4 separate regions of the Homo sapiens genome follow, and all the other regions are reported to be linked to region 1. The links are microRNA targets in miRTarBase. Many come from high-throughput screens and were not tested one by one. Region 1 holds a microRNA gene; each other region holds the end of a gene's coding sequence.

Region 1 (3,800 bases):
ATGGGTGCTGGGGCCAGGCTGCCTGGGTCTGAGTCCTGGTCTACCACTTACTGGTTGTGCAACTTTCAGCAAATTATTTCTCCATGTCTCAGTGTCCTCATCTGTAAAACAGACACAATAAGAGTACCTACCTAGGCCGGGCATGGTGGCTCACACCTGTAATCCTAGCACTTTGGGAACCCGAGGCGGGCAGATCACAAGGTCAGGGGATCGAAACCATCCTGGCTACACGGTGAAACCCTGTCTCTACTAAAAATACAAAAAAATTGGCCGGGCGTGGTGGCGGGTGCCTGTAGTCCCAGCTACTCGGGGGTGGGCTGAGGCAGGAAAATGGCATGAACCCAGGAGGCAGAGCTTGCAGTGAGCCGAGATCACGCCACTGCACTCCAGCCTGGGTGACAGGGCGAGACTCCGTCTCAAAAAAAAAAAAAAAGATTAGGTACCTACCTAATCTTGCAGTTAATATATAGGTAAAGCACTTAATACCAGGTACAATATAAGTGCTATATAAGTGTTAGCTGCTATTCTTTACTATTTTTAAGCATTAGTATTATTCTTTACTCAACCCTGGAGACCAGTGGAGACTCTGGAGCTGTTGGAATGTCCCTGCTCAGCCCAGATGGGCAGTATCTCTTGGCTTCTCCTAGGGCCCCAGCACCCTCATCTGATAACAGCTACTGGGCATTTCAGCCTGGAGATTTCTGTCTCTTATTTTAGACAATTTTTTGGTATTGCATAAATTAATCGATCTGCTAAGAAGAAGTGGAAAACTTGAAGACATTCCTGCCTTCTTTGAATTGGCCAAGAAGGTGTCTAGCCGGGTGCCTTTGGAACCAGGGTTCAATTACTGCAGAGGTATCTACTGCTGGTGAGTTGGGTGTGGTGTGTTGAGGGGCAGCTGTGTGCAGGAAGCCCTACTGGCAGATAGGCTAGGCCCTTGCTCTGCACAAAAGGAGCAGAAATTCTGCCTCCAGGACACCCGGACCCAGCAAGTGAGGGCCCATGGGGGCAGGGGTGGAACCCTGTGGAAGTCAGGGAGAGCCTGCAGCCTCTGGATGGAGGCCAGGTGAGGGCCACTTGGGCAGGCCACCAGCCTGCATCCAACACACAGGTCCGACGCCCGCATCTCCTCCAGGGGAGCTGGGAAACCAGAGATCCAGCCTCTGCTTTGTGCAGACTCACAAAGTGGTCCTTGTATATCCCTGCCCTGTCTGGGCCTCAGTTTCCCTCACTGATTCTTGGTGTTTTCTCCACCACAGGCACATAGGGCAGCCCAACGAAGCCTTAAAGTTCCTGAACAAGGCACGCAAGGACAGCACTTGGGGCCAGAGCGCCATCTACCACATGGTGCAGATCTGTCTGAATCCAGACAACGAGGTTGTGGGCGGAGAGGCTTTTGAGAACCAGGGAGCTGAGAGCAAGTAAGGGCCCATGGAGGCAGGGGCGGAACCCTGGGGAAGTTACAGAAAGCCTGCAACCTCTGGGTTGAAGCCAGGTGAGGGCCACACGGGCAGGCCACCGGCCTGTGTCTGATACCCAGGTCTAACACCTGCAGCTACATGGAGAAGAAGGAGTTGGAGCAGCAGGGTGTGAGCACCGCCGAGAAACTGCTGCGTGAGTTTTACCCACATTCAGACTCCAGCCAGACCCAGCTGCGGCTGCTGCAGGGCCTCTGCCGGCTGGCCACCAGGGAGAAGGCTAACATGGAGGCTGCGCTGGGCAGCTTCATCCAGATAGCGCAGGCTGAGGTGTGGCTGGTGGGGACTGGCGGGCATGGGCAGGTGGCAGGGCCGAGAAGACCAGGCGGCCAACACGTGCTGACGTCCACTTCCTACCTGGTGTGTAGAAGGACAGCGTCCCTGCCCTGCTGGCCTTGGCACAAGCCTACGTGTTCCTGAAGCAGATCCCCAAGGCGCGTATGCAGTTGAAGCGCCTGGCCAAGACCCCCTGGGTGCTGAGTGAGGCTGAGGACCTGGAGAAGAGCTGGCTCCTGCTGGCTGACATTTACTGCCAGGGCAGCAAGTTCGACCTCGCCTTAGAACTGCTGCGGCGCTGTGTGCAATACAACAAGGCAAGGAGCCACACACACACTAGGGCTGCGGGATGGCGGAAAGGATTCTAGGCATTCCAGGAAGGTGAAGCAGGCTTTGCAGGTAGAGGCCATATGGAATAAGAACTAGTCGGGAAGAGGCAGGCTGAGAGGGGCACATGGGCGACAGACCAGAATAGGAATGAGGATCAAGGGCGATGGACCAGGTGAGAGGAGGTGCACAGGGGTCGTGTTATGTCCAGAGGAGGGAACACTAAAGGACAGAAAGAGATGGGAAAGCTTCATGGGTTCCAAGCTGGAGGGACTTTTGCAGGTCAGAGCAGGCCAGGAATGGGAGTGGCGGAACAGGAGGGCTACAGGGAAAGGGGTTACGCCAGTGTCTGGGGTAGCTGAGAGGAGGGCACACAGTTGGCTTCTTGCAAAGGTTGGGGTACCCCTGGGGTCCCTTGGCAGTTTGGTTTATGGCAGCTCACTTCTGTCCCTTGCCTGCTTCTGGTTCTGGTCCCAGTCCCACCCTGGCCCAGGGAACCAGTTGGGGCTTCCGCTCTGCAGAGGCTCTAACTGGCTTTCCCTGCAGTCCTGCTACAAGGCCTATGAGTACATGGGCTTCATCATGGAGAAGGAGCAGTCCTACAAGGATGCAGTCACCAACTACAAACTGGCCTGGAAGTACAGTCATCACGCCAACCCTGCCATTGGTAAGGCAACCAGCCAGGGTGCACGTGAATGGACGTGGGAGGGAGGTGGGCAGGAGGGCCCCCACCATGACCCCAGAACTCAAGGCCTGTACCCTGGCTGTTATGAGAACCAGAGGGGTTCTCAGGTCACCAGGGTGCCACCATCTTTGCTCTCCATGTCCCCGGTAGGCTTCAAACTTGCTTTCAACTACCTGAAGGACAAGAAATTTGTGGAGGCCATTGAAATCTGCAACGATGTAAGCCAGCAGCCTTGGTGGGGAGGGCCTGGTGTAGTGGTGGGGAAACCTGCATGATACTGCACACCCATTCTCTCTCTGTTCCAGGTCCTCAGGGAGCACCCCGACTACCCCAAGATCAGGGAGGAAATTTTGGAAAAGGCCCGAAGGTCCCTGAGGCCCTAGCTGGGGTCAAGGGGCCTGGACCAGTAGAAGCCATCAACCTACTGAAGTTGTGTGGAGGGATGGAAAGTGGGTCAGTGGAGAAGGGATTCAGAAAATGACACATTCTTCCCCATTTCTATAGTGTATGTGGTTTATTTTGAGTCATGTCTCATCTGACCTAACTTTATGTTTTTAAGGCACAAGAAATTTTGCTCTGGGAAGAAAGACATCAACTGGCTTAACTTTTGCTGGGCTCATTGGGCGCTTTCTAACAGACCTCGCTTTTATCCCAGACTCTTTGAGGGGGCGGAGGGGAGCAAAGAGGGGGCTCCTAGTGGAATGGTGGTTGAAAAGAATCCCCTTCAGCTGTTTTTCAATGGTTGTTGCCCCTCTCCTGTCTGGTCTCCAGGATCCTGGAGCTAAAGAAGCAGATACTTCTCCCTGCCATGCTACCCTGAGTCTGCCTGGCGGTGGGCCCAGGATGCTGTGGGCAGTGGGCCCAGACAGGAGGATTAACTGCAGAAGGCCCGCACAGCTAAGGCCCTGTGTGAGAGGGCCTGCAGGGTGCAAGAGCCATTGTCCCACCCTGTCCATGCATTGTTTCCCTTGCCCCTGCCCCCCGCACCCCCACTCCCCGCCAAGTCCAGCTGGCTTCTTCTAGTCCTTACCAGT
Region 2 (3,800 bases), not on the chromosome of region 1:
GAGTGAGGATGAAGCTCTGCAGCGGGCCCTGGAAATGTCCCTGGCAGAAACCAAACCCCAGGTTCCAAGGTACCTTACCCTCTTGTGAAAGAGAGCGCAAGCTGTGGGCAAGGGCTTGGTCTGGAGGCAGGTAGGTGGGACCACTCTGACACAATGCAAGATAATCGCTGGCAACTTGGTCTCAAAATTAAGATGAACTATATGATCTTTGACAAGTTATTTAACCCATGGAGCCTTCATTTCCTCTATAAAACGGGGACAATACTAATACCCACCTTGTAGTGTTGCTATGAAGATTGAGATAATCCTCAGCAGTGCTCAGCACCATGAGGCCCAACACACACAGATCAGATGTTCAAATTTCAGATCTTACCATCATCCAACTTAAACTGTTTCTCCCTCCCAGTTGTCAGGAGGAAGAAGACCTAGCTTTAGCACAAGCACTGTCAGCCAGTGAGGCAGAATACCAGCGGCAGCAGGTATGAGGCTGGGCTGAAGATATATGCTGCAGTGGAAGGGAGGAAGAAGTCAGGGATGGGGGTTCTTCCTAGTGGTGCAGAGTTTTGGAATGGTGGTTATCGTCTGGTTTTCAGTATGACTCCAGCCCATGCTGAGCTCTGAAATGAGGGCTGTCCCTCATTTCCTTGACGTTGCACTGTGTCTTCCCCTCCTTCCCCTCTCTTTGCTCTAGGCCCAGAGCCGCAGCTCGAAGCCGTCCAACTGCAGCCTGTGCTAGGGCCCTGGGCTTGGGGAGGGAGGTTCACCTGAGGAGGACTGTGGCCCTCACACCTCTAGGGTACACAGGGAGAGGAGGCCCGGAGCACCCTGGAGGGCAGAGACAAGCGGGAGTGATGTGGAGGTCGCCCTGGGAGCCTCTGGAAGGCCTTGCTAGTGCTCCAGCTGCATGGAAGAGAGCGGCTAGCAACTGTTCCCTGGTTGGGCCCTCAGTGGATGCTGGCCAGGCCCTACTCTTAGCCCCTTCATCATGTCATCTCCCTTATGCTGGAGCTGCCCCGATGTGGAGTGGGCAGGAAGGGGCCTGGAAAAAATAAAGGATCTTGGCAGTTGATAAAACGTACAAGTGGTGTGTTTCTCTCTCCTCTCTAACCTCAAACAGGAAAGCCGTGTCAAGAATGCTCATCTGACTTATGGGTAGAGGCCCGCTGCAGTACCCCATCCCACAAAGCCACAGTGATCCTCGCACAGTCCACATTTTTATTTCCCCAAAAGATGTTTTTCGGAAAGGTCCCTTTCCCTTACCATAGCTAGCACCATACCCCAAGACCAGGATGAAATAAGCCAGGGAAAGGAGACACATCTTATTCCCTTCTGGGTTAGTCTTTGAGAGGGAAGTGGCCAAACTTTTGTCACCGTTCCATGGTCTGAGGCTTAGTGTCTTCAGAGGTTTCTTCCTGTCCCTGCTGCAGCTGCCACATGTCAGCATACACCCCACCTCGGGACAACAGAGCCTCGTGTCTGGGGTGAGGAGAAAAGTGTGAGTCCTAACCATTAGTTTTACCCCGAGGGTCCTTGCCACCAGCCCACAGAGAGGACGGGATGGGAAGGGAGGTCCCCTCCAGAAGCCCCTGGGACTTCATGCCCCCTTTCCTGGAGCCCCCAATTCAGAAGACCTGTCCTTTTGATCTATGTGTCTCTTACCGTCCCCTCTCCACGATGCAGCCATCCTTGATGACGAGGATCTGGTCAGCATTGACCACAGTTGAGAGCCTGAGAAGTCAAAGATCAGTCGCCTACTACCCCACCCAAAGCGGGCCACATCACCAGCCGCCCCAGGCCTGTAGTCCTGTACCTGTGTGCCACTACGATGGTGGTGCGGTTGGCACAGACTTTGGCCAGAGAAGCCTGGATGGCCCTCTCATTAGATGTATCCAGCGCTGACGTTGCCTATAGAGAGGGTCCAGGTAAAACTGCTCCTGCCACTCAAAACCCTCAATGGAAGGAGGCAGGCTGCTGGCTGAGGCCTCAAGAATACACAAGAGCCTTGTTTGGGCTTGAGAACTGGAAAGTGTGTTTTGTGAGATTTGAATTCATGGTATCTGTTCTAGGTGGGGACAGTGCCCAGGAGGAACGGCTTGAGCATACACAAGGCAGGAAGGAGGGGAGGAGACCCAGGGCGCACCTCATCCAGCAGAATGATGCCCGGAGCCTTGAGGATGGTGCGGGCAATGGCGACGCGCTGCTTCTCCCCGCCGCTCAGCTTCAGTCCCCGCTCGCCCACCTGTGTCCTGTACCCTGTGGATATTACCCACCACACGTTTCTTACGAAACGGAGGGAACAGGGGTCAGGGATTAGCAGGACAACACCAGGAGGGGAGGGGACTCTCTGCAAAGGAATCTCTCACCTTCAGGGAAAGCCATAATGGCATCATGGATGCCTGCAGCCTGAGCAGCAGCCTCCACCTCATCATTCCCAGCTGTGACACGGCCGTAACGGATATTGTCGGCGATGGTGTCATTAAAGAGGACAGTGTCTTGGGGCACAACTCCAATGTGAGACCGGAGAGAGGCCTGGGTCACCTAGGGCCAAAAGACCACACACTCTGCCTTATGAGATACCCCCAAGGCCTGGGAGGCAGGGTGGGCTGGCCGGAAGCACGTGGGATAAGAGGCTGTGGTAATAATCCCACCATCACTGCCCCATATCCTAGCCGTGTGGGCAAATCACTCCTCTCTGTTTCCCCATCTTCTCTTCCTGCTTCACCAGATTGCTGCAGATGTTTTGTTTTGTTTTTGGATAGAGTCCACTCTGTCACCCAGGCTGGACTGCAGTGGCAAAATCTCGGCTTACTGCAGCCTTGACCTCCTGGCTCATGCAATCCTCCTACCTCAGCTTCCTGAGTAGCTGAGACCACAGGTGCTTGAGACTACGTCAAGCTAATTTTTAATTTTTTGTTGAGATGGGGTTGCCAGGTATGTTGCCCAGGCTGGTCTCAAAATCCTGGACTCAAATGATCCTGCTGCCTTGACCTCCTAAAGTGTTGGGATTACAGGTGTGAGCCACCACACCTGGCTACAGAATATCGTTGTACCTTTTTTTTTTTTTTTTTTTTGTTTTGCTTTTTGTTTTGAGACAGGGCCTTGCTCTGTCACCCAGGCTGGAGTGCAGTGGCATGATCATAGCTCACTACAGCCTCCTGGTGGGACTACATGTGTGTGCCACCATGGCCAGCTAATTTTTTTTTTTTTTTTTGAGACAGAGTCTTGCACTCTTGCCCAGGCTGGAGTGCAGTGGCGCCATCTCGGCTCACTGCAAGCTCCGCCTCCTGGGTTCACACCATTCTCCTGCCTCAGCTTCCCGAGTAGCTGGGACTACAGGCGCCCGCCACCACGCCCAGCAAATTTTTTGTATTTTTCGTAGAGACGGGGTTTCACTGTGTTAGCCAGGATGGTCTCGATCTCCTGACCTTGTGATCCGCCCACCTCAGCCTCCCAAAGTACTGGGATTACAGGTGTGAGCCACCGCGCCCAGCAATTTTTGTATTTTTTGTAGAGAGGGTGTTTTGCCATGTTGCCCAGGCTGGTCTTGAACTCCTGGGCTCAAGTGATCCACCTGCCTCGGCCTCCCAAAGTGCTGGGATTATAGGCATGAGCCACTGCGCCCAGCCCTTTGTAGCTTTTATGGCACCATACAAATCCTTAACATGACTACTTTACTTGTGTGACTGTAGGTTATATCATGCTAGAATGGCCCTAGTTTTTTTGCAAGGGTGACATCTCCTCTCTCTGGACAGCCAGCCCTTATCATTCCTCCACACGTAGACCCCTAAACCACCGTCTTC
Region 3 (3,800 bases), not on the chromosome of region 1:
CTGCCGCTTGCCACCCACTGGAGCACGCCCCTTCCCCTGGCCAGGCCTCAGTTTCCCCATGATATCAGTGAGAGTGGGGCCCCAGTTCGCCATGCAGCCTGGCACTAAGCATGCACCCTGTCTTCTTTCTGCTCGTGGCCGCAGCTGGACATCGTGGAGTTCATCCCCTCTCTCCTCTACTTTGGCTACACGGCCCTCATGGTCTTGTCCTTCTGGCTGCTAACGGGTACCATCGGCTTCTATGCAGCCTACATGTTTGTTCGCAAGATCTATGCTGCTGTGAAGATAGACTGATTGGAGTGGACCACGGCCAAGCTTGCTCCGTCCTCGGACAGGAAGCCACCCTGCGTGGGGGACTGCAGGCACGCAAAATAAAATAACTCCTGCTCGTTTGGAATGTAACTCCTGGCACAGTGTTCCTGGATCCTGGGGCTGCGTGGGGGGCGGGAGGGCCTGTAGATAATCTTGCGTTTTTCGTCATCTTATTCCAGTTCTGTGGGGGATGAGTTTTTTTGTGGGTTGCTTTTTCTTCAGTGCTAAGAAAGTTCCCTCCAACAGGAACTCTCTGACCTGTTTATTCAGGTGTATTTCTGGTTTGGATTTTTTTTTCCTTCTTTGTTTTAACAAATGGATCCAGGATGGATAAATCCACCGAGATAAGGGTTTTGGTCACTGTCTCCACCTCAGTTCCTCAGGGCTGTTGGCCACCCTATGACTAACTGGAAGAGGACACGCCAGAGCTTCAGTGAGGTTTCCGAGCCTCTCCCTGCCCATCCTCACCACTGAGGCCACGACAAAGCACAGCTCCAGCTCGGACAGCACCCTCAGTGCCAGCCAGCCTCTGCCAGACCTCTCTTTCCCTCTTCTCCCCAGCCTCCTCCAGGGCTGCCCAAGGCAGGGTTTCCAGCCAGGCCTCGGGGTCATCTTTTCACCAGGAGCAAACCCAAGTCTTAGTTGCTACAAGAAAATCCCCTGGAAGTACTGGGGGCCAGGTTCCCCAGACAGCAGGAATTGCCCCTGTTCAGAGCAGCCGGAGTTTGCTGGACCACAAGGAAGAAGAGAAGAGACTTGCAGTGAACTGTTTTTGTGCCAAGAAACCCTGGACCTGGGGCCAAGTATTTCCCAAGCCAAGCATCCACTTGTCTGTGTCTGGGAAGGGATGGCCAAGGCCGCTAGGGTCCTTACCCCTCAGGATCACTCCCCAGCCCTTTCCTCAGGAGGTACCGCTCTCCAAGGTGTGCTAGCAGTGGGCCCTGCCCAACTTCAGGCAGAACAGGGAGGCCCAGAGATTACAGATCCCCTCCTGTAAGTGGCCAGGCATTCTCTCCCTGCCCTCTCTGGCCTCTGGGGTCATACTCACTTCTTTAGCCAGCCCCATCCCCTCCACCCCACACCTGAGTTCTTGCCTCCTCCTTTTGGGGACACCCAAAACACTGCTTGTGAGAAGGAAGATGGAAGGTAAGTTCTGTCGTTCTTTCCCCAATCCCCAGGAATGGACAAGAAGCCAACTTAGAAAGAAGGGTCTCACGTGGCTGGCCTGGCTCCTCCGTAGACCCCTGTTCTTTTCAACCTCTGCCCACCCGTGCATGTCATCACAAACATTTGCTCTTAAGTTACAAGAGACCACATCCACCCAGGGATTAGGGTTCAAGTAGCAGCTGCTAACCCTTGCACCAGCCCTTGTGGGACTCCCAACACAAGACAAAGCTCAGGATGCTGGTGATGCTAGGAAGATGTCCCTCCCCTCACTGCCCCACATTCTCCCAGTGGCTCTACCAGCCTCACCCATCAAACCAGTGAATTTCTCAATCTTGCCTCACAGTGACTGCAGCGCCAAGCGGCATCCACCAAGCATCAAGTTGGAGAAAAGGGAACCCAAGCAGTAGAGAGCGATATTGGAGTCTTTTGTTCATTCAAATCTTGGATTTTTTTTTTTCCCTAAGAGATTCTCTTTTTAGGGGGAATGGGAAACGGACACCTCATAAAGGGTTCAAAGATCATCAATTTTTCTGACTTTTTAAATCATTATCATTATTATTTTTAATTAAAAAAATGCCTGTATGCCTTTTTTTGGTCGGATTGTAAATAAATATACCATTGTCCTACTGTTTTGTCTTGAATCTCATGCAGGGGTTGGAGGTCTGAGGTGAGACACCTTCCCCGAGTGGGTTGAGTTGCACAGTTTCCCCCGAAGCTCATTCTCGTGTCACACTTCAGGGCTCAAGCCACTGTTGTTCCCTGCCTGGTACAAGTCCATTGCCTAGCCCCTCCATACTAAATTGCAGTCATTTGCTCTTCTGATCCCACAAGCAGGAAATGACAATCAAGTGTGTTTTGGTAGCAGCAAGATCTGGTTTTGGATTCCCAGCTTCAGTCTTTTACTGTCAGCTCATCTCACTCTATGAAACCCAGTTCTTCAATTGTAAGCAACAGAAACATCGGTCAAACTGGTTTTAGCCCAAAAATGAATTGATTGGTTCTTAAGTCATCAAGGATTTTGTTTATTTTGCTTCAGGTCTGGCTGGATCCAGGGGCTCAAAGGATAGCCTTAGGGCTCTTTCCCCTTTTCCACTGTGCTCCTCTCCGGCGTCACTCTGTCCTGTTATCCACAGTCTTCCTCCTGATGGGTGAGGCAGGGAGGGCAGGATGCCAATCACTCCAGACTTACATGATCCACTTGGGTATGCCGGGGGGCTGGGGTAGGGGAAGATGTCCCTTCCCACTTCAGTTTATTCAATATAGAGGAATTTCAGGAAACATTTCTGATTGGCCCAGCTTGGATTATTATTTGAACATCTTGCACCAATCACTATATCCAGGGGGTTGGAGTATGATTTGGGGCCACTTTCCCTGAAGGTGTTGGATACTGTGAATTTCAGCCCTACCAGAATTACTTAGAATGGTTGATGAGGAAAGAACCATTTCCCATGGTAAGGGATGCGAAACAGACCAAAACAGTGGCCTGTTACCCACCACCCCGCCACCCCAACCCCAAGCCTCAGTTCCTCATCTGCAATGGGAAAGGTGCTTGTTACTATTTATGGAGTACTTCCTGTGTTCTGATGTTCCAAACACTTTCCATGGGTTAGCCCATTTAATCTTGGATATGATACAAGATAACAACGTGCCCCTGAGACAGCTTCTGTTATTAGCCCCCTTTTACAGAGGTGGTCACTGAGGCACCAAGCAGTTGAGGTAACCTGCTGGGGCAGGATGGGGGGTGATGTCCCATGATGGGTGGAGTAGTGTTCACCTGGGACAGCCAGACTTCTGAATCTGTCCTTCCAACCTCTCTAGCCGCCTTTTTAAAGGGCTGTGTGTGTGTGTGTGTGTGTAAAATTATATGTAATTGATGTAAAATGAACTGCAGTTTGATAAGTCTTGATACACACACCCATGAAATTATCACCACAATCTCAATTGTGAGCATACCCAGGTTTCCTCATGCCTTTCTTTATAATCCTGCCCTCTAGCCTCTCAACATCATGCTTGTCCCCTCCAAACCTCATGTGGAAATTTGATCCCCAGTGTTGGAGGTGGAGCCTAATGGGAAGTGTTTGGGTCATGGGAGCAGATTCCTCATGAATAGATTAGTGCACTGGGGGAGGTGGGAGCAGAGGAGGTGAGTGAGTTCTCTCTTAGCTCCTAAGAAAGCTGGTTGTTAAAAAGAGCCTGGCACCTCCCTGCAACCCCCACTTCTCTCCCCATGTAATCTCTGCACATGCCAGCTCTCCACCTTCCACCATGAGCAGAAGGAACTCACCAGAAGCAAATGCCCAATCTTGAACTTTCCAGCTGTC
Region 4 (3,800 bases), not on the chromosome of region 1:
CCAGCATGGCAGTAAAGCAAGCAGCTCTCTGCAACCGCCAGCCAAGGCCCAAGGCAGAGACCGAGCCAAAACCGGTGTGACGGAACCCATGAATCATGACCAGTTTCATCTAGTGCCTAATCACATCGTGGTCTCTGCAGAAGGAAACATTTCTAAAAAAACAGAATGCCTTGGCAGAGCACTGAAATTTGACAAAGTGGGCTTAGTGCAGTACCAGAGCACGTCTGAAGAGAAGGCCAGCCGGAGAGAGCCTCTGAAGGCCAGTCAGTGCTCTCCCGGCCCTGAGGGGCACCGGAAAACCTCATCCAGATCGGATCATGGTACTGAGAGCAAACTGTCAAGCATCCTAGCAGATTCGCACTTGGAGATGACGTGTAACAATTCCTTCCAGGACAAAAGTCTGAGGAATTCTCCAAAGAATGAAGTTTTACACACAGACATCATGAAAGGGTCAGGCGAACCCCAGCCAGATCTCCAGCTGACAAAGAGCTTGGAAACCACATTTAAGAACATCTTGGAACTCAAAAAGGCGGGACGGCAGCCCCAGAGTGACCCCACGGTTAGCGGCTCTGTTGAGTTAGATTTCCCCAACTTTTCTCCTATGGCTTCACAGGAAAACTGCCTGGAAAAGTTCATCCCGGACCACAGTGAAGGTGTTGTAGAAACTGACTCCATTTTAGAAGCAGCTGTAAATAGTATCCTAGAGTGTTAATAGCAGCAGTCCTCCCCCTACCCCGCCCCGAGACCCCACCCCGAGACCCCACCCCGGACCAGTTACATTCGTTCCTGGCAAAAGCAAATGGAAATGGTCTCCTGTCTCCAGCCTGCTTGATCTTTCATCACAGGTTATTCTTTCTAATCTCAATCCTGTTCTTTGTTTAAGAGCAATACTTGTCGTGATTACAGGGAGATCCTTTAGTAAAATTAATCCTTGGCAGAAAGCAGTCTGATAGGCCCCACTCATTTCAAGTGTTATGAAAGTGCTTATAGGCATTTTGTTTATTTGTTTTGTTTTTTAAAAACACTGTAACTCAATGAGACCACAGTATACTTGGCCCTTGGTAAAATTTTGACAATCATAAGTCATTTGAAAAGAACAGACTTACTAAAATCAAACGAGACGGATAGAAGCTACTTTTTAAAGAATATCCCACTGCATCTGCAAATTTAGTTTTGGGTTTTTTTATTATTATTATTTTGAGTTTTTTTGTGTGTGTTTTGTTGTTATTGTTGAGGGGAAGACCACATGGTTCTTCCCCCTCAGCCATCTTTGAGCAGTAAATTGCTGGCTGTGCTGCCAGGGACCCGCAGCCCTGGTGGAAAAGCCAGTAGCACATACGCAGGGCATTGCAGGGCTTCCCTATTGATGGTTCAAGTGCTTTTCTGATGCTTCCGGAGCAAAACCTCATGCTTTTAGGCATATCTATGTTGAATTTCACCTAGGGAATGTTCTGTTCTTAGTTACAGCAGCAAAATTTGAAATAATTTCACCAGGCTAAATAAAGGAAAATGGAAACCAGTTAAGAGGCACAGTGTACAGAGGAGGCCGGGATAGAGCCATGAGGGTTATAATATTAATATGTATATATGTAAAAGCATATATATGTTAACTATTGAGAAAAAACAAGTTTTGCATTTTATAATTGGATATAGTCAACATATAATGTATGTTTTTGTTTGTTGCTGGATTTTGTTTCATTTAACCTCTCTTTGCACCCTCTCCCACAACAAATACCAAGCATCAAAAGCACTTTCATTTGAAAATTATTATGTTGTAATTTTTCAGTTTAAACTTTAAGGAGACTCTGGCCTTGTTTATGCTTCTTGTCTGAGAACAGTAGTGACCCCTGGCAGCAATTCATTACCAAAACACAGACAAACCAAAGGTAACCAGCTAGCCCACCACTGAAAGGAAAGATCTGAGACATGGGATTCCCATTTGAGAGCCAAAGGATATGCCCTGTCATGGTTTCTGTTTGGCCTGTGTTCATATTAGTGAGCATGGCTTACTGCTTTATTTATTTTTATTTCTTGTCAGGGAGTATTCTCCGTTTTCCTTTCTCGTATACCTGCCCCAGGTTATCCCATTTCTGTTGTTACCTTTATTCTTAATGTCATTGTAACCATCACTTATCTCCTCTCATTGGGAAAGCTACATGATAGTATTTTTATGCACTCTTCTCCCACACATACACACACGTGCATGTATCTGAGCTGCTCGGATCCAGAGGTCATTTTTGTTACAGTGTGTGCACACTCACTCTCCTTCTTAGTGTGCATACTCTCTCATTTATTCTGTTTATCTCCCTGGCTCTGGAGGTGCAGCCACTGGTCTTCACTTTAATGTGTTGCCAGAATCTGCTTCTGGCTGTCGCCAACATGGGGATGACCCCCATTGTCATCATGTTGGGCATTTCTTTTCCAGATTGGCCTGTGATGGAAAGGAAGGCTTCTAATTAGAAAACACAGCAACAGAAGACCTATACCCCGGTGCCCCTGTGTCCCACTACACACAGAAAACCCTGTGAGATGGCCAGTCTTCATAATAGCAACGTACCTTCACCCCAGCCACATGCCCCAGCCAATACAAATTGGAAAATCTGGCCCATTTTAGGGTTACCATTTTTTCCTTATTTGTGCCAATGTCCAAGTTGCAGATTTCCCCTTTTTCCTGTATTGTAACATATTAGATAAGTTGGTGTCGCCAGTTGGTACTTTCTGTTTGGGTAGTCCTAGGGTAACACCCTGCCCTAAACTCCATGATTTCATAGGCTTTTCTTCCCTTGGGGCTCATGCTCCCCTAATTCCTAGCAAGATGATCCTTCCTAATCAAATTCTTCTCATTGCAGAACTTTATCCCTGGAAGCCTTCATGTGGGCTGCTAGTGAGTTACATTAATTACTGCAAATCAGTGGAATTCTCAAGAGACAAGATAAGCTTCATGTACATTTGTCACCTCTCTTTCTTCCCTATCCTGCCCTGCTGTCCCAATCCTAGCTTTTCTATATACCATCCTAAAGGGTTTTTAAGCCCTAACACTTGTCTAGCAAATGGAGAGCCTAATTTACCAAAATGAAACTTGTAAATTTTTGTGTCATTGTATGTAAGTTTACTTTTTATGGAGGAAGGATTCTAGATAATGACAAATGAAGATTATGACATGTATTTCACTCCTGTGATTAGGTTCTACGCACATGGGTCATAACTCGCATGTCGAGCCCCCTCTAGTGAAGGGTAGGAGAGCTCAGCCTCGGATGGCCAACATTCAGTTGTTCAGGTTCATTCGTCAAAGTTAAGTTTTAGAACTATTTGTACTCAGTAACAAAAATCATTTTCTTTTTTTTTTTTTTTTTCTGTTGTGGAAAAGCGTGAATTTGTTATTAAGCATTTGATTTTCTGTGTCCTTAAGTACTTCCTGAAGATGAAGCAAAATTTTAATCTGGCAATTATGAAAAAGAAATATTTTAGCTCTGAAGGATTTAGTAGATTCTGTTAGATTAGGGAGGCCTTACAGACTGACTTTACTTAAAGAGGACGCGTCACTCGCTGTCAGTGTGGTGTGGGCTTTATTTGCTTAAATACCTTCATTTGTATAGTACGTCTCACTTGAAATTGCTTTGTATACATTTTGTAAAAATATTTATAAAATGTTTTGTAAAAAAAAAAAAACTATAACAAATTGCAGTTTATTTTGTTATGTTGGATAAATACTGTTAAAAGAAACCAGTCAGTAACTATATTGTTAATCCATGGTTAGGAAATGTTTAGTTGGAGATTACAAATTGAAACAACCATTGCAA

What was found. Region 1 holds the annotated microRNA hsa-miR-6822-5p (CAGGGAACCAGUUGGGGCUU, at 2,572-2,591, shown strand). A microRNA usually pairs through its seed, bases 2 to 8, with sites in the 3' UTR of a target mRNA and lowers its output. Matches are read on the target gene's strand: a 7mer-m8 pairs with bases 2 to 8, a 7mer-A1 pairs with bases 2 to 7 and ends in A, and an 8mer does both.
Region 2: the mRNA of ZFAND2B is a reported target of hsa-miR-6822-5p. Seed matches in the 3' UTR shown: 7mer-m8 at 928-934.
Region 3: the mRNA of TM9SF4 is a reported target of hsa-miR-6822-5p. Seed matches in the 3' UTR shown: 7mer-m8 at 545-551 and 7mer-A1 at 1,935-1,941.
Region 4: the mRNA of BICRAL is a reported target of hsa-miR-6822-5p. Seed matches in the 3' UTR shown: 7mer-A1 at 1,357-1,363 and 7mer-A1 at 2,966-2,972.

Annotation. Positions count from the first base shown.
Region 1 is chr3:39,135,640-39,139,439 of GRCh38, forward strand. MIR6822 (microRNA 6822) reads left to right here and starts at 2,567; the gene lies at 2,567-2,627. TTC21A (tetratricopeptide repeat domain 21A) reads left to right here. Exons shown (of 29, transcript NM_001366900.1): 23 at 718-868; 24 at 1,260-1,421; 25 at 1,556-1,748; 26 at 1,847-2,071; 27 at 2,628-2,748; 28 at 2,917-2,984; 29 at 3,072-3,261. The coding sequence ends at 3,149. RefSeq lists an enhancer at 603-1,508.
Region 2 is chr2:219,208,571-219,212,370 of GRCh38, forward strand. ZFAND2B (zinc finger AN1-type containing 2B) reads left to right here. Exons shown (of 9, transcript NM_138802.3): 7 at 2-69; 8 at 407-479; 9 at 692-1,078. The coding sequence ends at 736. It overlaps ABCB6 (ATP binding cassette subfamily B member 6 (LAN blood group)), which reads right to left. Exons shown (of 19, transcript NM_005689.4): 15 at 2,364-2,538; 16 at 2,141-2,253; 17 at 1,811-1,905; 18 at 1,660-1,728; 19 at 1,202-1,476. The coding sequence ends at 1,368. Among named protein-coding and RNA genes, the nearest start is that of ZFAND2B, 3.7 kb to the left of the region's middle.
Region 3 is chr20:32,165,151-32,168,950 of GRCh38, forward strand. TM9SF4 (transmembrane 9 superfamily member 4) reads left to right here. Exons shown (of 18, transcript NM_014742.4): 18 at 145-2,106. The coding sequence ends at 294. Among named protein-coding and RNA genes, the nearest start is that of PLAGL2, 41 kb to the right of the region's middle. RefSeq lists enhancers at 30-530, 3,396-3,690.
Region 4 is chr6:42,864,735-42,868,534 of GRCh38, forward strand. BICRAL (BICRA like chromatin remodeling complex associated protein) reads left to right here. Exons shown (of 13, transcript NM_001393499.1): 13 at 1-3,800. The coding sequence ends at 712. Among named protein-coding and RNA genes, the nearest start is that of RPL7L1, 13 kb to the right of the region's middle.